4 separate regions of the Homo sapiens genome follow, and regions 2, 3 and 4 are each linked to region 1. Evidence: fine-mapped expression QTL. A gene starts in region 1. Each other region holds a variant in brackets. All regions are shown on one strand. Distances are from middle to middle.

Region 1 (5,598 bases):
TAAATTTGTGTCTTCTTCTAAAAATGCAAAGAGAAGCAGAGACCCCTAGAGAATTGCATAAGTGTGCCCTAAACAAACCAAGAGGGTTGACGAAGTCTGTTCATCTTCTCTCTTGTCTCAAAGTATCCTTGTTTCTTTGTAACTTCCTCCCAATACTTTATTTTGAAAATGTTCAAACATACAGAAATGCTGAAATAATTGTACAGTGGACACCCGTATACTTCACCTAAATATTACCATTAATATGTTACTGCAGTTGCTTTATTAGAGATCCTTGTTGTTGTTGTTTTTTTAACAATGATTTTTTTTTTTGAGACGGAGTCTCGGTCTGTCGCCCAGGCTGGAGTGCAATGGTGTGATCTCGGCTCACTGCAAGCTCCGCCTCCCAGGTTCACGCCATTCTCCTGCCTCAGCCTCCCGAGTAGCTGGGACTACAGGCGCCCGCCACCACGCCCGGCTAATTTTTTGTATTTTTAGTAGAGATGGAGTTTCACCGTGTTAGCCAGGATGGTCTTGATTTCCTGACCTCGTGATCCGTCCCCCTCGGCCTCCCAGAGTGTTGGGATTACAGGCGTGAGCTACCGCGACCGGCCTGCTTTTTTTTTTTTTTGAGACGGAGTCTCACTCTGTTGCCCAGACCGGAGTGCCGTAGCGCGATCTCAGCTCACTGCCACCTCCACCTCCCGGGTTTGAGCGATTCTCCTGCCTCAGCCTCCCGAGTAGCTGGGATTACAGGCACACGCCACCACGCCCGGCTAATTTTTGTATTTTTAGTAGAGACGGGGTTTCACCATGTTGGTCAGTCTGGTTTCGAACCCCTGACTTCAGGTGATCCACCTGCCTCGGCCTCCCGAAGTGCTGGAATTACAGGCGTGAGCCACTGCGCCTGGCCTATCACAAATCTTTTATCCATCTCTCTAGTCATCAACTCATCTTAATTTTGGATGAATTTCAAAGGAACTTTTAGACATCAGTAGTGTCTAATTTGGGATGATAGTGACTTGAAGAATAATGGGGCAATGAATCCTTGTAGCCCTGGTGAAAATACAGTGGCCTTCCTTGTTGGACAGAATTGGTGGCATCTTGGCCTTGGGAGGACATTCAGAGTGCATGTAATCAGAGACAGAAGGGTAGTTCTGGCTGGTTGTAGGTGGCCCCTGCAGGGCAGTATCTACTTGTCTCTATTCATTTGAATGGGAGCTTTTGTTTGTTACTGGAAGAAGAAAGGGAGGTTTGGGGCCACGGAGAAGATGTAGCAGCTGATGGCAGCAGAAACCCCTTCTCTCTTCCATGGGTTTTGAGACTCCAATGGAGAGATGAGTTAGAAGCTGACGTTTTCTGGGTTAGCGTTTAGCAGCAAGGTTTCGAGTCAGACTGCTTAGGCCTGCATTCCAGCTGCTCCTGGCTGTTTGACCTTGGATATGATTTCAGCCTCTTGGCCTCAGTTTTCTCATTTGAAAATGAATGTAACCGACTTTATACTGTCGAACCTACTTTATATTGTTGTGAACATCCTGTAACTCAATCAACTTCAGTTGCTAAAATATAATTACATTCCTTGACAAGTTCACACAAAATTAACATATGTGACTGTAGCAGTTGGTGACCAAGAAAGAGAAAAAGGAAATGATTTTGAAAAGTGAGCCTAAATGGAATTTCGGGAGACGCGGGAGGGAGCGATTCTGAAAGTCCTTACAGACAACTCATTGTACTTCAAATGAAATACGAATTCTTCCCTTGGTCTGCAAGGCCTCCACATTATCTGGCCTTTGCCTACATCTCCAACATCTCCTTTCCTCCCGTACTTATTCCTAGCGACACAGGCCTTTGGGCTTCAGATTGAGTCAAACTCATTTGGTCCTCGGGACATTTGCACTTTCGTGAAAGGCTCTCCCCAGAACTTTACAAGCCTGGCTTCTCACACTTTGAGTCTCATTCAATTCAAAGATCATGGTCCTCAGAGAGGCCTTTCCTGACCACTCAGTTTAGTAGTGGCCATTTAAGTAGAGCACCCAATTCTCCATCCTTTTTTCCTTCTCCTTCCTCTTCTCCTCCTCCTCCATCTTCTTTTTTTTTTTAATAAATTTATCAAGCCACCAGAAATGCTGAATCCATTATTTTCGTATCATATTTTCACGTCACTTATCACTATCTGAAATTGCTATCCATCTGTTTTCTTGTTTATTGTCTGTCTCTGTTACTAGGGATCCTGTGATTTTGGGTAGTACTTGGCTGTCACCCAAGTACCTAGAACGGGGTTCACTGCACACCGAAAGTACGCAAAAATACTAAGTGAATGAATGTCAGGAGGATGAAAGATGGAGGGAGGTGAGAAATCCATCAAAGGCTCACAGAAAGAACTCAATTCTTGGATGAAAGTCGGAAGAATCCCAACAGCTAACAAGCAAATTTGCTGAGAGGGGGCGGGGCGGGCCAAGGGCGGGGGCGGGAAGGGGCGGAGTCAGGCGGAAGCCGGGGAGAAGGCCCAGGAAGTGACGGCCGCCTCCCGGCTACCGGGGACTTCTGGAGTCCGAGAAGTCAACGGCGCGGTTGCTGCGGCCGCCGCGCTCCCCGGCCCGAGGCGATGGAGAACGGAGCGGTGTACAGCCCCACTACGGAGGAGGACCCGGGCCCCGCCAGAGGCCCCCGGAGCGGCCTCGCTGCCTACTTTTTCATGGGCCGGCTCCCATTGCTCCGGCGCGTTCTCAAGGGCTTGCAGCTGGTGAGTCCGCGGTCAGGGAGGGCGAGCCCGGGCTGGGGAGCGGGGTCTGGCCCGGGCTTGGGAGGCCGCCGAGCTCCTTCGTTTCAGCTTGGTTGTTCAGTAAAAGGAGGTTTCCACACCTCTAGTTCCTTCCCTCTCAGCCTGGGGAAGGGGGCGTTACCCTCCGCCCTTCCGCCGGGCGGCCCCTCAGTCCCAAGGCTCTCCCCATCGGGATCCCACGAACTGGGGCCACCCAGCCTGTTAGGCGGGCTCAGGAAATGCGTCGGAGACCCAAGTCAGCCACTTCAACATCTTTCACTCATCCTCTATGGCGACTTTCCTCTCTTCTCTCTGCTGCTACCCTGCATTATCGCCCACAGTGCCTGTATTTAGACTGTGAAGCGCTGTTTATCTTTCTCTGGCTCTTGCGGTTTTCCTGCTGCGAGCCCATGGGGGCAGTTTAACTTGCTGGACAAAGTCCTGCGATACCACGCGTGGCATTGAGATGTGTGTGTATGTGTGTCCGGTAAATTGTCTTCTAAAAGTTTTATATTGACTGGAAAAGAATTATTTCAAAATTGAGCAATATGGGTTCTAAGTGGAAAGTCAAAAGGACAGCTTTTTGTAAGTATGTGCGGATAGCTGAACTAGGACATGGTATGCATCTTTCCATTTTATTGAGTTTATTTTAAGCAGTTGAAGTACCATAAACCTGTTCGTGAAAACATCAAAGCATCTTTGAGATTTAAATTATTCACTTTACAGTCGTGTTGGCTCCTATGTACTGTTCCAACCACTGATGGTTGAACCAGTTTAGGAAAAATAGAAACAGTTTAGGTTCTATTTCTGCAATAGAACCAGTTTAGGAAAAATCCGAATGCTTATGATGTTTATGAGTTTTGTCTTACTTTGTTTTGTTTTTTAACCATTCTAAGTAAAAATTAGCTCATTGGTTTCCTTGGAAAGAACTTAAATTCTTACAACTCAAATGACCCGAAGTTAAATTCTTAGAACTCTAGTGACCTACTTTTATTGAATAGAAAAACAGAAGTCGGAAAATCGGCACTGCTGTTTAGCGATCAAAATGATCACATCTGCTGATGACTGGGAAATCATTTGAAAGCAAGTGATAATGTGGCCTATGGAACCCAGTAGGATCTGGCCTTATCTTTCTCCCAGTCTCCCTCTAGGTGGTTCCACACTGGCCACCTTTAATTTATTACGAGGCATCAGGGGCTCTTTCCTGCCACTGTTCCTTTGCATAAGCTGTTCCTTCTACCTTCTTCCTTCTTCCTTCTCTTCTCTTGTCAGCTGTCACATGATGATTTTTAGGTATTAGCTGTATTTCTCTGCAGTAAAGCTAAAATTTTCTACGTGAATAGTAGAACTCTTTAGAACAGAAAAGAATATTCATCTGAAGCTTTTTTTTTTTTTTTTTTTGAGACCGAGTCTTGCTCTATCGCCAAGGCTGGGGGCAGTGGCGCAATCTCGGCTCACTGAAACCTCCGCCTCCCGGGTTCAGGCAATTCTCGTGCCGAGTAGTTGGGACTACAGGCACGCACCTCCATGCCCGGCTGATTTTTTTTTTTTTTTTTGGTAGAGACGGGGTTTCGCCGTGTTGACCAGCCTGGTCTCAAACTCCTGACTTCAGGTGATTTTCGCCCTCCGGGCCTCCCAAAGTGCTGGGATTACAGGCGTAAGCCACTGCGCCCAGCCCATCTGAAGCATTCTTGCTGCTCGAAAAAAATCATCTGTATTGGTTTGCTGCCCACAAAATCTCCTGTTTTCAGTTGCCTTTATTATTTTCTTTCTAATAAAAAGTGGCAAAGCTAAAGTAAATTTTCTGATTACCTTCTTATAGTTTAGTAAACTGTAGTTTCGTATCTTTGGAATAGAACATAACCAGTTTCCTTCCTTATTGCTGTTATAGAAGAAAACATGGAACACAACCAGAAATTTTTGTGGTAAATGTTATACTTGGACACAGAGAAGATGAATTTGCCTTAAAAGATCGTTAGACTATTATTAGTTCTCCATCATTCATAAGAAGAAATGGAGAAAAAATAAAAACTAATATCTCTTTATGAAATCCATTTATTTGTTTATGGGGAAATTGTCATGTTACAGGAATGCTTTCTTTAATGTGGAGATTTAAAAGTACTTTTTCATTACTGCCTTTCACTTTGATGGTTGTCTTTTTGTTCCTTTGTTTGTTTTGATAATGTCTTATCTCTTCACAGTAACAGTATATTACAGGAATTATCCAGCAAGTCCCAAGAAGGTTACATATGAAGTCGGTAAAAGTTGTCTTCCAGCCTGGGGCTATAGGCAAGGTCTTTGCCTTAACTCAAATTCTTCCTTTAGATAGATTGGTTGTTTTACTTTAAATGTTTAATTTTTTTAAAAAACTAAACAGAATTGCGAGCTCCAGTAAGGAAACAACTGTAATGGAGAAACCCGTAATCAGAAGAGGAGGTGTTTTAACAAGGGACCTGCAAACCCTGTGAAATTTTATTCAAAATATTGTACACTTATATGTTTGAGTATATTATTCTGGACCCATAAATCTTAACAGAATCTCAAAGATCCTACAAGAGAAAAGCCTGCTCTAAAACTTAAAAACCAGACATTGTGTATATACTTAGGAAATTCTTACATTAGAGTCTTCGGAGGTTGAATTGAATTACCTCTGAGGTTCTTTGCACTCTTAAGGTTTTTTTTTTTTTTTCAAACCTCTGAGGCTCCATGGGGTTTGCTATTACAGAACTGAATTGAATATTGAAGGGATAGAGAGTGGAGCCTGTACACAGAGGAGATTAGAGATAAAAGAACGTAACTTCTCTATCTCTTGAAGTTAACATAGCTGTGTCTGCCATTTAGATATGACCTAAGTTTTG
Region 2 (7,959 bases), 22 kb after region 1:
AGAGAATGTTATTAATAAAAATCGTGGAGATAGGGAGTTTAGATTTGGAAGAGACTTTAGCCATCACCTACATCAATTTTCTCTTTTTTACAGAGAACTTATCTGGCCCCCATATCCTTAAGGGTTTTGCTAGTGGAGAAGCTAAATTTGAAGCAGACGCATGGTCTTCTGTCTCTTGATAGAATTCTCAGAACGTATGATCGTATTTTAGAAGAGAACAGTTGAGGAAGTGATTTAAGGAAGAGGAAGTAGGTAGTGGCGTCATGTCACTGTGTCATTGCAGTGTGACAACTGGAACATTATTTAAGTAATTTAACCTAATAGTATCTTCAAAATGGAATTTCTGTTTTGATATTAATAACTTTTTTCATTTTCACCTAGGCTGAGTTGCCTAGTCACGTATTTTCCTTATCGCATCTGTGGGTCAATCTAACCATGCAAATATTTTTGTTTTGTATCATTTTATAGGATTTAATGTTTATCTGTTAACCCTACTTTCATATATTAGCCCTCCACATATAAACATGCACACATAAGGCAGAACATTAATATTTTGTGAGACTTTGACTAATAGCCATTATTCTGGAAGTTTTTCTTTTATAACTTCTTTCCATTTTTTGATGACTTAAAAAAATTTTTTTTACCATTAAAGAGTAGTCGTGTATAAGATAAAATTCATGAACATCTTGTTTATATGAAACATTCTCCAAGCCAAGTAGGAAATGTAAGATTATATTCCAAAATTCTCATATAACCTTTCCTCCTTTTTTTCCTCAGGTGTTTGGATTTATAGCAAGTTTTATGTTCCTACTTGACTTTATCACTATGCTGTATGAAAAACGACAGGAGTCCCAGCTGAGAAAACCTGAAAATACCACTAGGGCTGAAGCCCTCACTGAGCCACTTAATGCCTAAAGACTCTGGGGAGCAGATGTTACCTAAGGTAGTGACCCTGCATTGTGGTGCCTGAGCCCTGGCAGAAGCTCTTGTAAAATTTGTTAATTGTTTAAACCACTTCTTTTGGAGAGCAAGGGGAAGGTCAAGAAGGCAGTTTTATCAATATTGTGTCAGTCACCACAAAGTAGGCCAGATAAGTTAAAAAAAATTTTTTTTTAAATAATAATTGAAACTTATCTCAAATGGAGATTTTGGTGGGAGGAGGAGAAAACAATTGTTTTTAAATCACACAGCTCAACGGTTGATAAATGATTCTGTCATTCTGTTACAGGTCATTCTTTTACTAGGCTTAGCTTCCAAATTATGCTTTATAGCTGTATAAACATCGTGATTATATTCATCTACTTAGAAATTGTTTTATTTTTAAATTAATTTGCTTAGCTGTTTGTTTTGATGCTTAGATTATGTTCTGTTAATGGGAATTTAACATATTTAAGAAACCAATATTTAAAATGTTGGTCTAGGTTTTTTTCCTTAACATATATTACCAGGCTTTACTGTATTTCACTCAGCCTTAAATGTTATAATATTTTTGGATAACGGTTATTAATTCTTTGAGACCTTCGTATAGCCTATAAAATGTATGGGAGATGTTGGTATTTTATGTGTATAAAAGCAACAATATCAGCAACTTCGTGTTTATACTGCACCTTGGTTGTTGATGTCAAGTAAAAAAAAGATTGTTTTGTAACACATAAAAAAATGGAAGAAACTGATACCACACCTAAGGACCAAAGATAAGAAAGACTTTTTGCCCAAGACAGTGAAAGTAATTATAAAAACAAGCTTTGACCACTTACCAAGTATCTGAAGAGATGAGTTCATACTATGATTTAGAAAGTGGTTCAATTCCCCTGTTGGCATATGATTATTTTTACTAAAATTAATACAGCTCTGTGGGTCTTCCTTAGTGTTTTCTTTGAAGCCAATCTGTTTTTTTTAGGACACCAGCCTTTGGTTTTTCATCTGTTCGAGATGCCTCTTCTCTGTCTCCTTATCAGATAGAAATGGAGTCATGTGCTGCTGCTTCATCTAGCAGAGGTTGGCCTCTGGCTCTGACACTTTTTGTCAGTTGTCTTTAGGTGGTCCTGAATCTTGGGCCCTTTTGATTGTGAATACTGTGTAGCAGGATCTTGAGAGTCCTTGTTCTTACATAGGCATTGCTCTAGTTTGTCTTTGGCAAAAAAAAAAAAAAAAAAAAGTAAATATCCAGGGAACCCTGCCCAGACTAATACTGTTGGTGGCATAAGAGAATCAAGCCATTCTCAAGAGATAACTTCATAACCAGAATTGTCTGTTGGCTAGCAGCTGTCACAGATAGGCAGGGCACTTGGGATATGACCTTTCTGTCCAGGTGATTCACAGACTAGACCTTTCTTATCCTCCTCCTAGAGTTTTGACTTGGGACTCTAGTGTTAAGATGATGAGCCCGTGCATCAGGTCCTTCTGCACTTTGGTGGAAGTCTCCCAGGGTAGGTTTCCTATTTGAAACAGTGGAATCATGTTTCCAGTGATAAAGTTTAATGACCTCATCCTTTTTTTTTTTTCTCATCTGCCATTTGTGTGTCTTAGATGGGTTTTAATTGCATGAATGTGGCTAATGTGGTTCTCAGAAATTGGTCAGTATGGCCCAACATAGCTTCTGCTCTGTCTTACTGACTCAATACCTTTAGGATTTGTATCAGAGTTTGGATACTAGTGTTAGTGGTGGTGTCACCACTACTTAATTGGGAGATAATGAAACCAATCATGGATGCTGTTTTTATTGGGCATGTCATCTAAGAGAGGAGAAATAGCTGGGTTTTGGGTCTAATTATGAATAAGGACTGATTCAGAAAACGAGTTTATGGTAGGTAGACTAAAGTTTCACATCAGACTGTACCATTGTGATTTAGACCTATCTAAAATTCAGAGCATATCATCTGGGCTACCTCAGGGTCACCACCCATGTATTGGGCTTAGTCAGGATTGACAGATACATTCTCAGCTGGCCTGTCATATAAAACATACTGTCATTGAGCTTAAGCTCCGCTTGTTCTGAGGTTTCACCTCCATGTGTTTCATTGGTGCAAAAGTGGATCTCTTAGTTGGTCACTTAATTCTTTCTTTTTCAGAAAGATAGTATGTTCACTGGTATATTTGGTCACTCTTAGAACCTTCCTTCACATTGTTTTTTATGGGACCCATGAATGGTTAGCCTTTCTTTTCTATTGTAGAAGGAAATAAATAGGAGTAAAAAGACCATTGTAGTAAATAAGTTCAAGGGGAACTTGGGACCAGAAACCACTGTTATGTACAAAAAAATGGCAAATTCAATAAACTCAAATTTAAAATAATTTTTAAATTAACAGTTATGATAAATTTTATATTTTATACAAATAGATTGCTTAGAATGGTTCTCAAGAATTATAAGAGAAATGAACTCACAGTACAAAAATTTTATAATTACTATACTTGTGTTTTGTTTGGGGGCTGGGAAATGTATTTTTACATTGTAGCCAATCATTTTATATTTGTCAATTTAAATCTTATGGGTCTTTTTTTTTTATCTCTCTTGATGTCAGATTTTATAGTCTTTTTAAATAAATCCATTTAATTAAAACGTTCTTACCTTTGTAAGTGTTTATTACAGAAGTGTGATGTTTAAATGAAAAGCTGTCTCTGTAGTTGTGGGAGTTGGCTGCACAATCTTGTTGAGTGCCTATATAGAATACTAGATTTTAGATATATCTAGGATAGAAAAGAAACAAATCCATTTCCCATCCATAAACTGTCCCTCTTGTTGGAAAGTTAGAATACACATTTAAACAACATTTTTAGGGAACCACAGAGGAAGACTTACAAATGGCTTTAAATACTTCCAAAGAAGCAATTTAGACTCCTTGTCACATTTCTAGATGTGGCTAACAATGCTAAAAACAAAATAGGCACATTATCTTAGGAACTGTTCAATGATTGGGAAAGTGTGAAGCAAAATTATTAGGGTGGTGCTGGTAAAACTACAGCTATTTGTGTAGTTTGCGAAATTCCTGCCTCCACCCTGTGTGAGAATAACAGGGTCTTTATAGTCATCAAGAACTCACTGGAATTTGTACATTCTTCAGAGTTTAGAGTTGAGTTTTGTTTTGATAAAGAGCATTGTATCAATATGCAATAAGCTGCAAGAAGCAGAAAATCTAATTAAATGTGTCTTAAACAGTAAGAAAAACTTATTTCATAAGACATCTGGGTACATTGGTGAATTCAGTGGCCAAATTTTTCTACAAGTACAGTAATGTGTGTCATAGAAATTGATATAATAAAGGGGGAGGCTGGGCGCAGTGGCTCACTCCTGTAATCCCAGCACTTTGGGAGGCCAAGGCAGGCGGATCAGCTAAGGTCAGGAGTTCGAAACCAGCCAGGCCAATGTGGTGAAACCCCATCTCTAGTAAAAATACAAAATTTAGCTGGGTGTGGTGGCACATGACTGTAACCCCAGCTACTTTGGAGGCTGAGGCAGGAGAATCGCTCAAACCCCAGAGGCGGAGGTTGCAGTGAGCCGAGGTCATGCCATTGCACTCCAGCCTGGGAAACAAGCGCAAAACTCCATCTCAAAAAAACAAACAAACAAACAAA[A/CAAAA]AAACAACGGGGTGGGGGGAGAAGTATTGTCTTTTCCCCAACATTTTTATATTTAGCTACTTTTTAAAATTTTTGAATTTGTTTGTTTGTTTTGGAGACAGAGTCTTGCTCTATCCTTCAGGCTGGAGTGCAGTGGCGCCATCTTGGCTCACTGCAACCTCTGCCTCCCGGGTTCAAGCGATTCTCCTGCTTCAACCTCCTGAGTAGCTGGGATTACAGGCGCATGCCACCAAACCCTGCTAATTTTTTTGTGTTTTTAGTAGAGATGCGGTTTCACCATGTTGGTCAGGCTGGTCTCAAACTCCTGACCTCAGGTGATCCACCTGCCTTGCCTCCCAAAGTGCTGGGATTACAGGCATGAGCCACGGCGCCTGGCCTGAAATATTTCAAGTACTGGAAGCACAGAGGATAATACCTGTTGTAGACTCCACTCACTCACCTTTAATAGATTATAACATTTTGCCATATTTGCTTCAAGGTTGTAACTCTGGTTCATTCATTTTAAATGCTGTTTGGTATTTCATTGTATGGATATGTCACAATTTACTTATTCTCCTACTGATAGAAAAATTCTAACAGCATTTTCAGCTTTTGACCATCTTAACATTACAGGGAACAAATGTATTTGAACATCTCTTCTTGTGCACATGTGAGAATTTACATGGTGGGTAACTACTTAGAAGTTAAATTGTCTGGTGGGTCAGAAGGTACGTTATGATTTCAGCATGGCTAAATATTTCCAGATGGATCTCCAAAGGGTAGACCCAGTTTATATTTCCCTCAGCAGTGAATGAGGTGCTGGTTTCCCCACTCTTGTAATGCACTTAATATTAGTTCAACTTAACATTTTTGCTCGTCTGGTACTGAAATGGTGCCTCTTTTTTTTTTTTTTTTTGTATTCTTCCTGTTTCTGGTGAACCTGATTGTCTTTTCACTTGTTTGTTGACCTTTATTTCTCAGAAATAGAAAAAATAATCTGAAAATTCATATGGAAGTGCAAAAGACTCTGGATTGCCAAAGCAATCTTGAGGAAAAAGAACAGATCTGAAATTAGCCAGGCGCAGTGGCCTGCACCTGTGGTCCAATCCACTAAGGAGGCTAAAGTGGGAGGATCGCTAGAGGATCCTAACAGCATTTTCTCCCAGGAGTGTGAGGCTGAAATGAGCTGTGATTGTGCCACTGCACTCCAGAGTGGGTGACACAGTGAGACCCCATCTTAAAAAAAAAAAAAAGCCAAGCATAAAACAATTTTGAAATTGCACTATCAGAAATTAAGGTTTGATCAAGTCTGTGTTATTAACATAGGTAATAAAAAATAGCCCAAGAAAGCCAGCAACAGACCTATACATATATATCCACTTAAACAGAAGCAACATTGTATGTCAGAGAAGGGGCCACCCATTGAAACAATAAACTAGATGGTGTGAGGCATTCACACAATACATCAAAACCAAAGTAGCATCAAGTACTAAATATAAGATGTAAACCTTTAAACATTTTAGGAAGTATAGAATATTCCTTTTTTAAATTAATTTTTTATTTATAATTGACAATTATACATATTTATGGAGTACAGTATGATGTTTCAATATATGTGTACATTGTATCAAATCAGGGTTTGTCATATCCATCACTTTAAACATTTATTATTTCTTAGTAGTGATAACATTCAAAGTCTTCTAGCTATCTTGAAATATACACTACATTGTTGTTGTTTGAGACAGGGTTGTTTTGTCGCCCAGGCTGGAGCACAGTGCAGCCTTGACCGTCTGGGTTCAAGCGTTCCTCCCACCTCAGTGCCCCCGAGTAGCTAATTTTTGTAGTTTTTGTAGAGACGAGTTTTGCCATGTTGCCCCAGCTGGTCTTGAATTGCTGGGCTCAAGCGATCCTCCCAAAGTGTTGGAATTACAAGGGTGAGCCACCACTGGCCCGCCTACATTATTCATTTCTACAGTCACTCTGCTGTATAATAGAACACCAGAATTTATTCTTCCTAACTGTAACTTTGTATCCATTGGCCAACCTCTCCCAGTCCCCACTCCTGCAAACTCACTACCCTCCCCAGACACTGGTAACCGTTATTCTACTCTCTCATTCTGTGAAATCAACTTTTTTAGATTCCACAGATGAATGAGATCATGTGGTGTTTGTCTTTCTGTGCCTGGCTTATTTCACTTAACATAATGTCCTCCAGGTTCATCCATGTTGCTGCAAAAAAAAGCAGGATTTCATTGTTTTATGATTGAACAATATTCTATCGTGTATTTCTGTACACACATGCCACATTTTCTTTATCCAGTCATCTGTAGATGGACATTTGGATTGATTTTGTATCTTGGCTATTGTGAATAGCACTGCAATAAATATGGGAGTGCAGATAGCTCTTTGACATACTGATTTCACCACCATTGAATGTATTCTCAGTAATTAGACTGCTGGATCATATATGGTAGTTCTGTTTTTAATTTTTGAGGAACCTCCATACTGTTTTTCATAATGGCTGTACTAATTTACATTTCCACCCACAGTGCATAAGAGTTTCCCTTTCTCTAAATCCTTGCCAACATTTGATATTTTTGGTCTTTTTTTTTTTTTTGAGACAGAGTCTTGCACTGTCGCCCAGGCTGGAGTGCAGTGGCGTGATCTTGGCTCACTGCAACCTCCACCTCCCAGGTTCAAGTGATTCTCCTGCCTCAGCCTCCCGAGTAGCTGGGACTACAGGCATGCGCCACCACGCCCAGCTAATTTTTGTATTTTTAGTAGAGATGGGGTTTCACAATGTTGGCCAGGATGATCTCGATCTCTTGACCTTGTGATCCACCTGCCTTGGCCTCCCAAAATGCTGGGATTACCGGCGTGGGCCATTGGCGCCTAGCCCTATTTTTTGTCTTTTTAATAGTCGCCAATGAGCTCATAGTTCATTGTGGTTTGATTTGCATTTCTCTGATGAATGGTGATATTGAACATTTTTTTCATGTATCTGTTGGCCATTTGTATGTCTTTTCTTTGAGAAATGTCTATTTAGGTGTTTTGGGCATTAGGTTTTTTTTTTGGCAGGGGAGGCTATTGAGCTGTTTGAGTTTCTTGTATATTCTGGATATTAACATCTTGTCAGATGGATGGTTTGCAAATACTTTTCTCCCATTCTATAGATTGTCTCTTCACTCTATTGATTGTTTCCTTTGCTGGGCCACAGCCTTTTGGTTTAATGTAATTCCATCTGTCTATTTTTGCTTTCATTGCCTGTGCTTTTGAGGTCTTATTAAAAAAATCCTTGCCCAGTCCAATTTCATGAAGCATTTCCCGTTTTCTTCTTGTAGTTTCAGATCTTTTAGGTCTACGATCCATTTTGAGTTGATTTTCATATATGGTGAGAGAGAGGGGTCT
Region 3 (7,959 bases), 640 kb before region 1:
CCAAGAAGCACACTCAGGGAGGTGTTGGGTTGAGGTCATTGAGTGCAGCCTGCACACCAGGGTTTCATGGTAGGTTTGGAAGACCCAGCCCAGTTTTTGTTTTTTTTTTTTAAGGTTTGGTTTCCTTTGAAATAGAAATTTTGGTAACTCAGCTCTACAGCCTTCAATCAAAGCAAAGTACTGACAATATTGACTGTACTATCACCCGGGTCCTCAGGGGACATCACTAGGGTAGGGGTGGAGGTGCTTTTCAATCCCCAGTGAAAGGAGGCCAACTTCAGAGAGTGAACGAGGACCCCCCAGCATGCCAAGTCAACCCATACGTGGAACAACAACATGTACAGAGAGCTCACCCCAGGCTCACAAGACAAGGACCCAACAGTACCTCTGCAGGGCACAGAGGTGGAGTGAGTCACAACACCCAACCCTGCCTGGGTCCCTGTGGACGTCGGCTTTCATTTTCTCACACAGCTGGGAAGGACACTGCAGCCTGAGGCTATAAGGGGAGTTCACAGCTGCTGGGCACACTATTTACAGACTCAGGAATCCCGGAGCAGGGCGTCCACTCGCTGGGTCCCCCACTACTTTCTAGTCCTGTCTCATCACCCTCTTCCCCACTGAGTTCAAAAGGAAGTTTCTCTGGTGGAGTAAAGGTTGGGGTGAGGAAAGAAAGGAGAACCCGGCATCCCGTGGGTGAAGGCCATCTCCCCCAGCAGGAAGCCACGTAAGATCTGACGCATCGCTGGGATTGGGGGCTGCTGTGGACACGGTGCATCCACCAGTAATAACACTGACTCCTCGGGCCAAACACCCCCGCTGGGAGTACAGATTTTGTGGACGTGGGCAACTTCAGCCCAAGACAGAAGTGGTAGGGGACTGTCCTGGGTGGGTACCCTCAAAGGAGAACCTGATGCAGGGATTCTTGTGCAGGTGAGTGAGGACGTGGTGTCAGAAGGGATGAGGAAAGCAGGATAGAGCTGAAGGAGAAACAGAAGGATGTGCCCGAGTTCCCCGAGGTTGGTAGAGTGTTCTGGGGGATAAGGGAAGCCCAGAAAAAGCACAACGTGTGAGTGTTCCACCCCAATTAACCACCATTACACAAAAACCCAAACACTCTATCCTTTTATTCCTTCCCAGGCTATTGCAGGAAAAGTCTTGTTTCCCAAACGCTGTGCCTTTCTCCTCTTGCCTTCAACCCTGGAGGGGCCCAACTACACAAGTGGCTTATTTGGAGAAGGGAATGAGGTTGAATAAAGAAAGCTCAGCTTCCAGAACACCACACTCTCTTGGTTTTCTCTGACCTTAAGGTAACTCCTTCTCAGTCCTTTGGCTGATTTCCCATTTCCCAGAGAGCCCAAGGGCTCCATCCATGGCTCTTTTCTGTTGCTTCTCAGTAATACTCAGAGACAATCTCAGTGGCCCCTCCAGCTGCATGGCTTTAAATGCCACTGACATGCTGATGGTTCAGTAGGGGGCGCTGTGGTGCCCTGCCAGATCCCTTCACACAGCCAGTGCCCAGGACCCCCACCCCCAACACACTACCATGCATGGTAGCTGCCAGATGCCTACAGCCTCTTTTCCAGAGACTTGCCCTCAACTGAAGTCACTTGCCTTCAAATGTACCCACACTCCCAGAGAACTTCTCACAGCCAATAAATGACTGATAAAGGCTTTCACAGGTTCCTTCTGAGAGCACCCCCAACAATAAACCAAGTGCATTCAGATCCCTGTCTCGAGCTCTGCTGCAGACCTGACCTGAGAGAACTCTCCACTTTGATTTGCAGCCAGAACCTCCCATTCCAACCACAGACAGCCTGCTTTGCACCAAATTCCATACTTACCCAGCCCATCCTTCCCTATTTCAGTAACTGGTAACTCCATCTTTCCTGCTATTCAGGCCAAAAACCTTAATGTCATCATTAACTCTTCCTTCTCTTACACTCCACATTCAAACTCTCAGCAAATCCTATTGGCTCTTTTCAAAATAAATCTAGATATTTGACCACTGCTGTTGCTGTGGCCCAGGCCCAAGCCTGGAACCTTGCAGTAGCTTCCTAACAGGTCTTCCCTCTTCCTTCTGCCCTTGTCCACTAAAGTTTTTCACAATATGGCAGCTAGAATGACCCTTGCAAAATATAAATCAATCAAGGCACTCCTCTGTTCAAACCCTCCAGTGGTTCCCATCTCACTTAGCAGAAGCCAAGGCCCTCCACCACCTGTCCTCCCCAGCCGCCTCTCCTTCCATTCTACCCCTGCCCACGACTCTGCTTGGTCTCCCTGCTCTTTCCTGACCACGTAGAGCAAGTTCTCACTTTGGGGCAGTGCACATCCTGTTCCTCTGCCTGGAATGCCTTGTCCAGGATCCACTTCCCTAACGTCTCTGCTCAACGTCACATTCCCAGTGAGGCCCCATTTAAAACTGCAGCCTCATCTCCAGGATTTCTTACTCCCTCCCCTGCTTTATTTTTCTCCACAGCAATTATCACTACATGATACCTTGTATATATTTATTCCTATGTATTGGCTATCTCTTTCTCCCTGTAGAATGTAAGCTCCATGAGCACAGGGAACTTTCCCTGTTATTCTGTGAAGTATCTCTAGTTCCCAGGTCAATGCCTAGCACACAGTAGGTACTCAATAAATATTTACTGAAAGAATGAATGAAACTAGACAGCTCTGGCTTTCTTCCTTTTCCAACTCGGAGACTTATAACTAAGCATTGTCCTCAAATGGGATCGGCCAACCGTTGTAATTTTGGAGATGCAAAGTGGGGCAAAAGCCACATTTCTGCACTCTACACTCTCTACTCAACTTGTTTTTCAGTGGGTGCTAGAATTGGTACAAGTCAGACCAAGTGAAGACCATTGTGAGGCTGGAGAAATTTAGCCTATGTCTTCCACCATCTTTCCCGGATGGGGAGAAAGGAGACTAAAATCTGGAAAAGCAAATAAGCCAAAGGAGGTTTTCACAATTATCATCTTCTAGGAATGTTTTTCTTATTTAAAAAATAATACTGATTTTCTGGGAAAAACAAAAAAACAAGCCAGAGAAGACTGCCCTTCAAACCAAAATGGTAAGAAAGGCAGCTATGAACATGGGGAAGACAAGTGTGAACATGAGGAAGACAGGGATGAAGGTGTGAAAACAGATGTGAGGATAAGAAGACAGGTGTAAAGGTGAGAAAGAGGCCGGGCATGGTGGCTCACGCCTGTAATCCCAGCACTGTGGGAGGCCAAGGCAGATGGATCATCTGAAGTCAAGAGTTCGAGACCAGCCTGGCCAACATGGCAAAACCCCGTCTCTACTAAAAATACAAAATTAGCCGGGCGTGGTGGCACATGCCTGTAATCCCAGGTACTCGGGAGGCTGATGCAGCAGAATTGCTTGAACCCAAGAGGCGGAGGTTGCAGTGAGCTGAGAAC[G/A]TGCCATTGCACTCCAGCCTGGGCAAGAGAGCGAGACTCCATCTCAAAAAAAAGGTGAGAAAGATAGGTGTGAACATGAGGTGGCAGGTGTGAAGATAGGAAAGGCAGGCTCACCCCTGATGACATGCAGTTAGAGAGACGGGGGCTTCCCTTTCACTTTGGAGAGTAAAGAGAAGGCTCTGAGGTATCAACAGCCTGGGCTGTTGGGAAAAGGACAAAGAATCTGTGTTTCCTGAACGCCAAGAGGAAGTCTCTTTGGTTGCTGTGGGCTAGCTGGTCTCCTCCAGTTCCAAGAGGTCATCCACATATTCCACAACTTCTCCCTGTAAGAGACAACAGGACAACTTTATTAAATGGGCTATTGGACTTTTAAAAGTACTGATGAGCAGAAACAGTATCCCGAGAGGCCATCACCACTGTCTGCTTTGGCTGAAACAGGTTTTTTCTGCTGGTCTGGGGCCCAGAGGACCTGATTTCTCCCTGTGGAGGGGACCTCGGCTTCCACTCCATTTGAACTTGGTATCAAGTGCTCTGCGAGATCCGCCAACATGCTGTGTGAGGCGGACAGCCCAGCCTGTGAACAGCTCTACTAAGTGGCCCTCCTGTGTGCATCTCTGCCTACTCCCCTTCCTCCCCTCTCATGTGTGCAGGTCTCCCACAGGAACATTTTCTATCTGTTCCCTTTCTGCCTTGACCACCAGAACCCAAACTTCTCAAGGACCAGGGGACTGGGTTGATTTTTCTTCCCCAGAGTCCAGCACACAGAAGGTGCTCAATACATGTGTTGAAGGATGAATGATTGAGTGCTTGCATACATACTGCTGGTGTGACTGAAGCAATCACTCCTCTTACAGGAGAGACACACAGGGATAGTGGGATCCACTTGCCCAGTGTCGGTACCAGGAGCTCACCTGCTCCCTCCTTCTGCAATCAGCCTTATACTTCAACTTGAAGCAGCCCAGCACCCTTCCCAATTTCTTTCTCCACATTGACTTCTCTTCTATAACCCTCCTGGACCACCAGCTGATGACACCCATTCTCTTTTCTGCAGAGAATGAGTGAATGACCAAGGCTGAGGCCCCTTCCATAAGAGTCAACACAGACTGGCCCCACCAACCCTGCTAAAACTCGACCTCCTTCACTGAGCTCACCATCCCAGGCCAAGAGCCTGTTGGCTCCTTTTGATGTTTTAACACAGAGAAATTTATAAAAATCTTGCAGCATTTGGGAATAACTGGAAAACCTATCAAGTACATGAGACACAAATGGGGGGTCTTAGTATTATCATCAAATACTTCTACTATGTCATGCCTGAGATTAGAAACTCAAACTGTAGACACTACAGCTTGGAAAAATTGTTTTTCAGTTGCTTTCTAGACCCCAAAAGGAAAACACAGCATAGTAGAGGGATTATGTGTATAGCTATGACTTCTGCTTAGGGAGTTACTATATCCTGCTGTGTGTCTGTTGTGACTTGCGGGATGATGGTATTGTTTGCTTTTAGCTCACTAGTAATAAGTGCCCGAGGCAGCACAGACGAAAGAAATGCATCCCCTGCATGGCTGTTGTAGTGAATACTGTTGGGGCCTCACTCAGATCTCCTTCCCAGTGCACTCATCCCCAACTCCTGTGAGGGCTGCTTGCTAATGGCTAGCAGCTGCCCCTTCTCTGGGCAATTGCCTTTGGCCAAAAACAAAAACAAAAACAAAAAAAAACAGCAGTCTTGACAGGGAGGTTACACACCAGCCCTTCCTGGCAACGAAGAACGAATGACAGACTGATAAGGGGGACTACAAAAGGCAAGAACAACTCTGTGGTGCAATTCATGCTCCAGAGTCCCCCATGGGAGCAGGCGAAGCTTGACTCCAGCTGAGACCACGTATTTGTTGAGCTCCTTCCCCTGACCCTCATTCCGTTCCTACCTGAGAGCACTCCCTCAATACATCCTTCCAACAAATTATATTCTATTTCTTTTGGACTTCCCTGAAGCAAACAACCATCAGAACTTGAAACCTGAAGCATCTGTTTCAGCCTGTTTTAAAAAGTTTCTGAAACTGTAATAAACCTCTGCAAAATTCTGAACCAGTGCGTAAACTTTCAGGAGTGCTTATACACATTTCAACACCAGAAAGATAATAAGGAAGAATGCCACACATATCAGCAGCTAAAGTGTACTGATGCTTTGTTTCAAAGGAGTATTATGTCCTTTGGAAAATGGAAGGACTAACTAAGAATTTGATGATTTTGGTTATATTTTCATTTCAAAGTATTACTTGCCATAATTTGGTATATAGTAAGAAAATGGTTCATTCTTTAGAGATGGATTAGTTCTTCCACAATTCTAAAGCCTCAATTAATAAGCAAACTACTCCAGAACCTTCAACAAAGTCCTTTTATCTTGAAAGTGCCAAATCCAAGAATCCTAGGAATTTTAAAGCCTGCAATAAGCTTGGCGTGTTCATTAGATGATTACTAACCCTCTGTGTGACTATGAGCAAGCCACTCTGCCTTTCTGAGTTTGTTTCCTTATCTGTGACATGAGAGAGCTTTACTGAATCATGTGAAAAATCTCTTCGTGTTCTAGTATCTATGATTTGCTTTCTATATATGTTGTTCTTGTACATCAGAAGTCTTGAAAATGTTCACAGCCTTAGGCCAGGAATTTCACCACTGGGAATTTTTTCTAAGGAAATGATTAGAGAAGAAGTAAACAATTTAGTCCCTGCTATGCTATTTGTAAAAGCAAAAAGTTGGAAGCAAACTAAATGCCTACAAAAAGGCTATATTTCTTAAAATTATCTATATCATGTAATATTAGTCACAAAAAAGTCATTTTTATAATGAATATTAACAAGGGAAACAAAAATCATGTGACCATCTCAATAGATGCAGAAAAAGCATTTGACAAAATTCAACACAAATTCATGATAAAAACATTCAGGCCGGGTGCGGTGGCTCACGCCTGTAATCCCAGCACTTTGGGAGGCCAAGGCAAGTTGATCACCTGAGGTCAGGAGTTCGAGACCAGACTGGCCAACATGGTGAAACCCCCGTCTCTACTAAATACAGAAAAATTACCCGGGTGTGGTGGCACATGCCTGTAATTCCAGCTACTTGGGAGGGCGAGGCAGGAGAATCACTTGAACCTGGGAGGCGGAGGTTGCAGTGAGCAGAGATCACACCACTGCACTCCAGCCTAGGCAACAAGAGTGAAACTCCGTCTCAAAAAAAAAAAAAAAAAATTCAACGAATTAAAAATAGAACTTCCTCAACCTAATAAAGGGCACCTACAAAAAACCCCCAGCTAATAACGTACTTTCACATTTAATGCTGAAAGACGACTGTATGCTTTTTCCTTTTAAGACTGGGAACAAGACAAGGATGTTCACTCTCTCCACTTCTTTTTTTTTCCAGAGAGACAGGGTCTTGCTCTGTCACCTAGCCTAGTGTGCAGTGGCATGCTTATGGTTCACTGTACCCTCCCACTCCTGAGCTCCAGCAATCCTCCCACTTTAGCCTCCTGAGTAGCTAGGATTACAGATGTGCACCATCATACTTAGCTAATTTTTTTTTTTAGACAGTGTCTCACTGTGCCACCCAGGCTACAGTACAGTGGTGTGATCTCGGCTCACTGCAACCTCCACCTCCTGGGTACAAGCGATTCTCTTGCCTCAGCCTCCTGAGTAGCTGGGATTACAGGCATGTGCCACCACGCCCAGCTAATTTTTTTGTATTTTTAGTAAAGCAAGATTTCGACCGATTGGCCAGGCTGGTCTCAAACTCCCGACCTCAGGTGATCTGCCCACCTCAGCCTCCCAAAGTGCTGGGATTACAGGTGTGAGCCACCACACCCAGCCTAATTTTTTTATTTTTTGTAGAGATGGGGTCTTGCTATGTTGCCCAGGCTGGTCTCAAACTCCTGGGTTCAAGTGATCCTCCTGCCTCAGCCTCCCAAAGTGCTGGGATTAGAGGAATGAGCCCCTGTGCCAGGCCCACTCTCTCTGCTTCTATTCAACATAGTACTAGAAGTTTTAACTAGAACAATTACGCAAGAAAAATAATACACATACACATACAAACTAATAAATAAGTTCAGCAAGTTTGCAGAATCAATACACAAAATCTATTGTATTTCTATTCTTTTAGAATATGCCCAAAAGTGAAAATAAGAAAACAATTTCATTTATAATAGCATCAAAAAGAATAAAATGCTTGAATACTAGGGGTTGGAAAGAATTTATTTTAATTTTTTAAAAAAGAATAGAATGTTTAGGAATAATAAAATAAGAAAACACTGTGAAATAAATTTTTAAAAAATCCAAATAAGTGGAAAGACTTCTCATGTTCATGGATTAGAAGACAATATTAAGAAGCCAATACTCCCCAAAGAGATTTATGTGTTCAGTGGAATTCCTATAAAAAAATCCCAGCTGCCTTTTGCAAAAACTGAAAAGCTAAACCTATAATTCATATGGAAATGTACAGGACCCAAAATAGCCAAAATCATCTTGGAAAAGAAGAACAACGTTGGAGGACT
Region 4 (7,959 bases), 100 kb after region 1:
TTCCTCATCTGTAAAGTAGGAATACTAACATCTCATAGGGATATGGTAATGATGAATGAGCTCCTGCATGTAAAACAGGCCACAGGATGCCAAGAGCAATAACTTAACACATGGATTTACTCCACAGGAATCTAATGACATGTGACCACAGCCCAGTGATAAACATGGCCACTGAGCCTGCTGCCCCCTGCACTGCTATTGCTCCATCTTCCCTTGCTAAGGAGCAGCCATCAGAGATCCAGCTTTGATGCAGGATAAAAAGGCTTTTGTGACTGCGTTAGTTATCTACTGCTGCACAACCAATTACCACAAACTTGGCACCTTAACACAACATTCATTTATCTTCTCACAGTTTCCACGGAGCAGGAGTCTGGGGAGAAGTCCACTGTTCAGAGTCTCACAAGACTGCAACAAGAGGTTGGCCAGGCTTGGGGTCCTCTTCCGAGCTCACATGGCTGTTAGTGGCTTTCAGTTTCTTGTAACCATAGGTCTGAAGGCCCGTTTTCTTGCTGGCTGTCAGCTGAGGGCTGCTCTGGCTTCTAGGCATGACCCTTGGATGCTTGTGACATGGCCCCTCACAGGCCCTCTCTCAACAAGGCAGTTCACTTCTTCAGAGCCAGCAGGAGACTCTCTCCCTTTGGGAAGGACCCAGTACTTCTTCTAAGGCTTTTACCTGATGAGGGCAGGCCCACCTGGAGAAAATCTTTTAACTCACAATCAACTCCTTTGGGACTCTAACTGCTTCTGTAACATCCCTTCACCTTGGCATATGACATCCTGCCACCTGTGCCATATTCCATTGGTTAGAAGCAAGTCAGAGATTCCACTCACACTCAAGAGGATGGAATTACACAGGATGTGACTGACTGGGAGTCACCCTCAGGTGTGCATACCATGGTGGGCTAGTGTGGGAGACGGCTTTCCATACATGGAGAGATAGCACACCACGGTGGAAAAAGAAGACTTGCTGGACCTGGGTTCAAATGCTGGCTCCACAACTTAACAGATGTATTCAACTTTGGACAGCTATGTATTTAACTTTTAACCTCTCAGCTTCTGTTCAAGCAAAAGGAGGAAAAACTGAATACTCCACAGAGTCATTAGAAGAGTTAAACAGGCTGGGCGCGGTGGCTCACACCTGTAATCCCAGCACTTTGGGAGGCCAAGGAGGGGGGATTACTTGAGGTCAGGAGTTCGAGCCCAGCCTGGCCAACATGGTGAAACCCCGTTATCTACAAAATTACAAAAATTAGCAGGGCATGGTGGCATGCACCTGTAATCCCAGCTACTCAGGAGGCTGAAGCAAGATAATTGCTTGAACCTGGGAGGTGGAGGTTGCAGTGGGCCGAGATTGAGCCACTGCACTCCAGTCTAGGCAACAGAGTGAGACTCTGTCTCCAAAAAAAAAAAAAAAGAAAAAAAAAGAAAAAAAAAGAAAGAAAGAAAAGATTAAACAAAGGGAAATTGCATGTAAAATCAGCAGACATAATAGAGCAGGAATTGAAACTTTAGATCCTCTCTCTCTTCCCAGTCCTTCCTGGAGGAACTTAGAAATAAAAATGAAGATAATAATAACGTTGGGTAATGTGAAAATGCTTCCTAAAATATGGTGTATACTTAGTCCGTTCAATACCCCAGTGAGGAGTTTTCCCCACTCCAGCTGAATTCATCTCTGGCAAAGGATGAAGTCATCACTAGCACCTGCTGTTATGTCTCATAGCACCTCCTTCTAGATCTGCCACAGCCTGCCCATCAAGGAAGAGCCAAATGAACAAATTATATAGTACGACCAAATAATGGACTGAATGCAGTGATCACAACATCATTTTCAGTGTTTAATGACACAGGAAAATATACACAACATAATGATCATGAAAAAAAGACCCCAAATTGTCCTTTTAAGAGCTCAAGTGGTGGACTTGGACCACCTGGCCCCAAATCCACCTTCAGTATTTATGACTCTGTGCCTCAGTTTCCTCGATGAGTTGGGGATAATGATACGACCCACCTCATAATATTGTTGTGAGGATTAAACAAGGTAACACATATAAAAAACACCTAGCCCGGCCGGCACCATGGCTCATGCCTGCAATCCCAGCACTTTGGGAGGCCGAGGTGAGCTGATTGCTTGAGCCTAGGAGTTCAAGAGTAGCCTTAGCAACACGGCAAAACCGTGTCTCTACAAAAAATTAGACAGGCGTGGTGGCCTGCACCTGTAGCCCCAATTGTTAATACTTGGGAGGCTGAGCCAGGAAGATCGCTTGAGCCCAGGAAGTCAAGACTGCAGTGAGCAGAGATAGCACCACTGCACTCCAGCCTGGGTGGCAAAGTGAGACCCTGTCTCAAAAACAAACAACAAGAACAACAAAAAGCAAAACAAAACAAAACATAAACCACCTAGCCTAGTGGCTGTCACCTAAGGAGGTCAAAGTGCTATTATTTAGTTAAGTACCACTCTCATAACTTAAGAGGAAACGTTTAAAGTGTAGATTTTTTCACAAACAATGTTGAGAGCTGACGCTGGCTTCTCAGGGAATAAGGAAATCTGAAGAGGAAAAAGAGACAAAGTATTCAGAAGTCACGATACAGTAATTCTCTCTGCTTTCCAGAAGGCTCCACTTCACTCTGTACCCAAAAGCATTTAATTAACTTCTCCTTTTCCCCTTCCCATTTATTTCAGAAGGATCTTCATTTTTCTCTTTAAAAAAATGAGTGGCCGGCCATAGTGGCTCACGCCTGTAATCCCAACACTTTGGGAGGCCAAGGTGGGCGGAACACAAGGTCAGGAGTTCGATACCAGCCTGGCCACATGGTGAAACCTGTCTCTAGTAAAAATACAAAAGTTAGCCGGGCGCAGTAGCGGGAGCCTGTAATCCCAGCTACTTGGGAGGCTGAGGCAGGATAATTAATTGCTTGAACCCAGGAGGCGAAGGTTACAGTGAGCCGAGATCATGCCACTGCACTCCAGCCTGGGCGACAAAGTGAGACTCTGTCTCGAAAAATAAAATAAAATAAAATAAACAAAATAGAATAAAATAAAACAAATGAGCATGACACAGCTTTTTTCTGAAGCTTCAGGGCAACCCTTTGGGAGTAGTAAGTGGAAACTGCGGGTTACCGCCTCTCTGGTTATCAATCGGTCTTTCTAACTATCTAAAGTAAACTGGCCGGGCACAGTGGCTGGTGCCTGTAATCCCAGCACTTTGGGAGGCCAAGGCGGGTGGATCACTTGAGGTCAGGAGTTCGAGATCACCTTGGCCAACATGGAGAAACCCCGTCTCTACTAAAAATACAAAAATTAGCTGGGCGTGGTGGCGCGCGCCTGTAGCCCCAGCCACCTGGGAGGCTGAGGTAGGAGAATCATTTTAACCCGGGAGGAGGAGGCTGCAGTGAGCCAAGATTGCACCACTGCACTCCAGTCTGGGCCACAGACTGAAGACTTTTTAGACTCCGTCTCAAAAAAACCAAAACCAAACAAACAAATAAACAAACAAAACCTTTGCTTAAAGTAAACTAAAGAGAGCGGGCTCAGCAGAGGGAGGAGAGTGACTGCCCCAGGAAAAGGAAGAGCCGCGTCACTGCCCTTGCTGATTTAAACACAAGTCAGGTGAGGCGCGTTTTCTGCAGGAGGCTGAGAAGGGCTCTGCTCGCGATTTCCGCCCAGGAGCGCCGGGTGGCTGGAGCAGTGACCGCGTCCCAGCCCCCTTTCCGCTCCGCAGCCCCCGGGCTGCTGCCGGCGCTGGGCTGGAAGCCAGGCCCCTGCCGATCCCAGGAGTCGCCGCGGACGCCGCGAGCCCTGCCAGGGAATGAGCAGCGAGCCCAGGAAACCACTGAGCCAAAGTAGTAACAAAGAAGGCCAGCGTGCGCGGGCGGCGGCCGAGCCAGGCTTCCAGGGCCGCACGCTGGGCC[C/G]GGCGCGAGGCAGATGGCAGAGGGGAGGAAACAGATGGCTGTCCAGTGGCGCTGCACAGGAAGCGCCAGGGCTGGCAGGAAGACAGAAGGGCGGCCTTCGCTGCAACGGGAATTTAAATAAATACACCGGCCCACACAGGGAATCCCCTAGGATTCCAGGGTCCTGGCGTGCTTGCGGGGCCGGGGTCTCTAGGGCCCCTGCAGTGCCAGAAAACCTATGGGGCTCACACCGACCCCGAACCCCTCCTCTACCCACTTACGCCCTGGCTGCCTGCAGCCTGGAGGACTTTGGGCTGGTATTTCCATCCCTATCGCCTCACTCGGGCCAGTGATTCCCAGTCGGGCTGTAAGTGGTTATTTGAGGTGTCCTGGATGGGAATTCTTGCCGGTGATTACAAAAGCCTTAAGCTCTGCAGCCTGAATAGGTAAGGCCTTCCGCAAGAGTGGAACTTCCATTCTTCAAATATATGCAGATACTGTGGCCATCACTTAAATACAAGAGCATTTAAAAGCATTTTTGAATTTTCTAGTCTGTCTGTCACTGTTCCTTTTCTAAATCATCAGACACCAAAAATATGATTACAGCTTAAATACTATTACTATCACACTTGGCTCCTTGAAACTCTTGGATGATAAAGGGGCACTCATTAATTTCTAGATGTTAAAAAGTCTAGAGAATTGTTTTATGCCAGCCACCTAAGAAGGGCAAGAGACACTTCATTTCTCTCTCTGGAAAAGGTCAGTGCCAATTATCCTGAAGAAGTATTTACAGATTTGTACACCAGGATTCTCTACATGGAGGTTCATCACAGCCTCCTTTGTATGCAGGTAGAACTGGAAGCTCCCAGAGCCACAGTGTACCATGGTACACACAACCAGGGTACCTCCATGACTGGCTATGACAGCACTGTTAGAAACCAAACTGCAGACGAACAAAATGCACCACATACTAAACAAACAGCAAGAAAAGCATTTACAGCCAGGCATGGTGGGTCACACCTGTAATCCCAGCACTTTGGGAGGCCGAGGCAGGTGGATCACGAAGTCAGGAGATTAAGACCATCCTGGCTAACACGGTGAAACCCCGTCTCTACTAAAAATACAATAATTAGCTGGGCATGGTGGCACATATCTGTAGTCCCAGCTACTCGGGAGGCTAAGGCAGGGGAATCACTTGAACCCGGGAGGTGGAGGTTGCAGTGAGCCCGCGCCACTGCACTCCAGCCTGGGCAACAGAGTGAGACTCCACCTCAAAAAAAAAAAAAAAAGAAGAAGAAGAAAAAAAAAGAAAAGCATTTACAAAATATGTATAGAATCATCCTAGTTTTGTTTAAAGAAAAACACCACCAGCCGGGCAAGGTGGCTCCCGCCTGTAATCCTAGCACTTTGCGAGGCCAAGGCAGGTGGATCACCTGAGGTCAGGGGTTTGAGACCAGCCTGGCCAACATGGAGAAACCCCGTCTCTACTAAAAATACAAAAATTAGCCGGGTGTGGTGGCACATGGCTGTAATCCCAGCTACTTGGGAGGCTAAGGCAGGAAAATCGCTTGGTCCTGGGAGGCAGAGGTTGCAGTGAGCTGAAACCGCACCACTGCACTCCAACCTGGGCAACTGAGACTCTGTCTCAATTAAAAAAGAAAAACAAACCACCACCAAAATTATGTGTATCTACTATAAAATACTTTAGTTTTACTTTTTAATCTTGGGGAAGAGGGAGTGGGTGAGTCTATTTTCTTCTTGTGCTCCCCAAAGTTTCCACAATGAACAAGTATTACTTTTGTTAGGAATAAAGCCAATAACTTATTTTATTATATTTTATTTTTGCATTTGTTTGGTCACTGACAGTAGTTTCTTGTCAGGAATGGGCTGAGGTCAAAGAATCTTGGCAGTGAGGTTCTTTGCTGCTTTTTACTCTCCAACTTCCAGGAAGTAGGACATGGGTGTGCAGACTGCACTTGGGAACCAAACTAGACCCCCTCCTCGCCCTCCGCCATACACATCTAAAGCAGAACATAAAGGGATGGGCCCTTCTGGATGATGCTGGGCTATTCTGTGCTAACAGGTCTATTCACAGCTAGACCAGAGGCTGACATCCCCCACAGCTGAATTCCACTTGGCACCTAACCTGTGAATTCTCAAAGTGAAGCCTGGAATTGCCCAGGCCTCTTAGAGGGTCTCCAGGACCCGCTCTCCTGCCAAGAAACCTTAGTGTACTCCCCCCAGCACCCAGTCTGGGAAGGCTCCTTCAATCTTATTTCAGACAAAACATCCTTTTAGGATATAAAGTATTTTGCACTGTCAAAATTGCACTGTCAAAATTCCAGTTTGCATTACTATTCTGAAATGAATAAGATGTATATGTAATATAACCCTAATCCCTGTGACAACCAAAAAAAAAAAAAAACAAAAGGTTCCATAAAATTCCAAAATAACCCCTAGGGGGCGGTACAGCCCCTAGTTAAGAGTCACCTCATGAATGGTGAGTTGATATGATGCTTTGCTGATTTTTCTTAGACTAAGGACTATATATTCACCAAGATTTGGCAGACCCTGGAGTCTGGTCCCTGCATACCTCCAGTCTCATCCCCAATACTCCCACCCTGTTCTCTCCCCTCCAGCCCTAGAGATACTCCTCCCTCCACTAACAGCCAGGGTCCGTGCTCTTTCTTTTCTTTTTGGGGGGATGGGAGGACAGGGTCTTGTTCTGTCACCTAGGCTGTATGGAGTGCCGTGGCGATCACCACTCACTGCAGCCTAGACCTCCAAGAGATCCTCCCATCTCAACCTCCCGAGTAGCTGGGACTACAGGCACGTGCTACCACACCCATCTAATTTTTGTATTTTTTTGTAGAGACCGGGTTTCACCATGTTGCCCAGGATGGTCTCAAACTCCTGGGCTCAAGCCATCCGCCCGCCTCGGCCTCCCAAACTGCTGAGATTACAGGCATGAGCCACTGCGCCGGCCAACGCTCTTTCTTCTGCTTGTGATGCAATTTCCTCATGCTCACATCAGATGTCCCTTCCTCAGAAACACCCTTCCTAATCCCCAAAAGGTCACACTCCCTAGTATATGCTCTATACCACTGAGTACTTCTCCTTCATAATTTCGAACCTGTTTGTAATTACATATTCATAACCATTTTGATTAATGTTTATTTTCTCTATTTGAGTATAAAGAGGCAGGGGCTCATCTGTCTTCTTTCCACAGTTCCCTAGCACACAGTCGTGATCACCTACTAGTTAGCTGATCACAGTAGGTGATCAACAAATATTTGCCAAATAAATAAATGAACCTCCCAGAAGATATTTAGATTTCCATCATTGCCGCTTGTGAAATACATTCTGATTCTCTGTCCATGTTATGGTTATGTAAACGTCACAGTCTGTTTTTCTGCACAGGCAGAAAGAGTCTATCCTGTTAATAGCTGTATTTCACATAGCGTAAGATTAACAGCATAGCAGATGCTCAGTGGATAAGATGGCACCCATTTCTAAATGTCTGGGGTGGGAAGATTAAGATAATTACCCCAATTCTGGCTCATTTCTTGCTACATCTTTTTCCTTCCCAACCCTAACATACCACTTATCTCTAACTTAAACATATATTGAATAAAGGCACCAAAGGGGTAAATGAGCCACTCCCAACCTGAAAACTTACACTCATCTGTCAAGATGCAATTTAAATATCACCTTTGCCCTCTGATCCTCTTCCATAAGGTGGGCAACTATCAGAACGTTTACCTTCCTGAGCAGCCAATTTTGGTACTTGTTCATCCCCTCAGCTTGTCAGAGGCATCCTAACCAGAGTGACTCCATCTTGAATAAAGGCCGAGAGAAAGCCAAATCTGCTGGATTACATTCCCAGGGGGTTGGGCAGTCTTGGTCACATGATGTTTATGGTTGAGGGAATGAGTTAATAATTTTTTTTTTTTTTTGAGACAGAGTCTCACTTTGTTGCCAGGCTGGAGTGCAATGCTGCGATCTCGGCTCACCGCAACCTCTGCCTCCCGGGTTCAAGAGATTCCCCTGCCTCAGCCTCCCGAGTAGCTG

Direction of the effects. Positions count from the first base shown, and alleles are read on the strand shown. Sizes are in standard deviations (SD) of each study's normalised expression. Not every link is listed here.
For the expression in B cells of the gene that starts at base 2,478 in region 1, A is the low allele of the variant in region 3 and G is the other (large effect, 1.5 SD a copy in Schmiedel 2018).

The links.
Region 2: its variant is fine-mapped to the expression of CMTM6 in whole blood (INTERVAL, PIP above 0.99).
Region 3: its variant is fine-mapped to the expression of CMTM6 in B cells (Schmiedel 2018, PIP 0.95).
Region 4: its variant is fine-mapped to the expression of CMTM6 in cerebellum (GTEx, PIP above 0.99).

The regions. Positions count from the first base shown.
Region 1 is chr3:32,499,732-32,505,329 of GRCh38, reverse strand. It overlaps CMTM6 (CKLF like MARVEL transmembrane domain containing 6), which reads left to right and starts at 2,478. Exons shown (of 4, transcript NM_017801.3): 1 at 2,478-2,722. The coding sequence starts at 2,585. RefSeq lists silencers at 2,378-2,467, 2,538-2,767.
Region 2 is chr3:32,476,916-32,484,874 of GRCh38, reverse strand. CMTM6 (CKLF like MARVEL transmembrane domain containing 6) reads left to right here. Exons shown (of 4, transcript NM_017801.3): 4 at 778-3,563. The coding sequence ends at 915. Among named protein-coding and RNA genes, the nearest start is that of CMTM6, 22 kb to the left of the region's middle. The variant A/CAAAA (reference allele first, on the strand shown) is at 4,573.
Region 3 is chr3:33,138,181-33,146,139 of GRCh38, reverse strand. It overlaps CRTAP (cartilage associated protein), which reads right to left. Exons shown (of 7, transcript NM_006371.5): 7 at 1-3,745. The coding sequence ends at 3,692. Among named protein-coding and RNA genes, the nearest start is that of CRTAP, 28 kb to the right of the region's middle. The variant G/A (reference allele first, on the strand shown) is at 3,423.
Region 4 is chr3:32,397,618-32,405,576 of GRCh38, reverse strand. All of the region lies in intron 1 of CMTM7 (CKLF like MARVEL transmembrane domain containing 7), which reads right to left. Among named protein-coding and RNA genes, the nearest start is that of CMTM7, 9.7 kb to the right of the region's middle. RefSeq lists enhancers at 2,859-3,726, 3,727-4,596 and a silencer at 3,589-3,768. The variant C/G (reference allele first, on the strand shown) is at 3,910.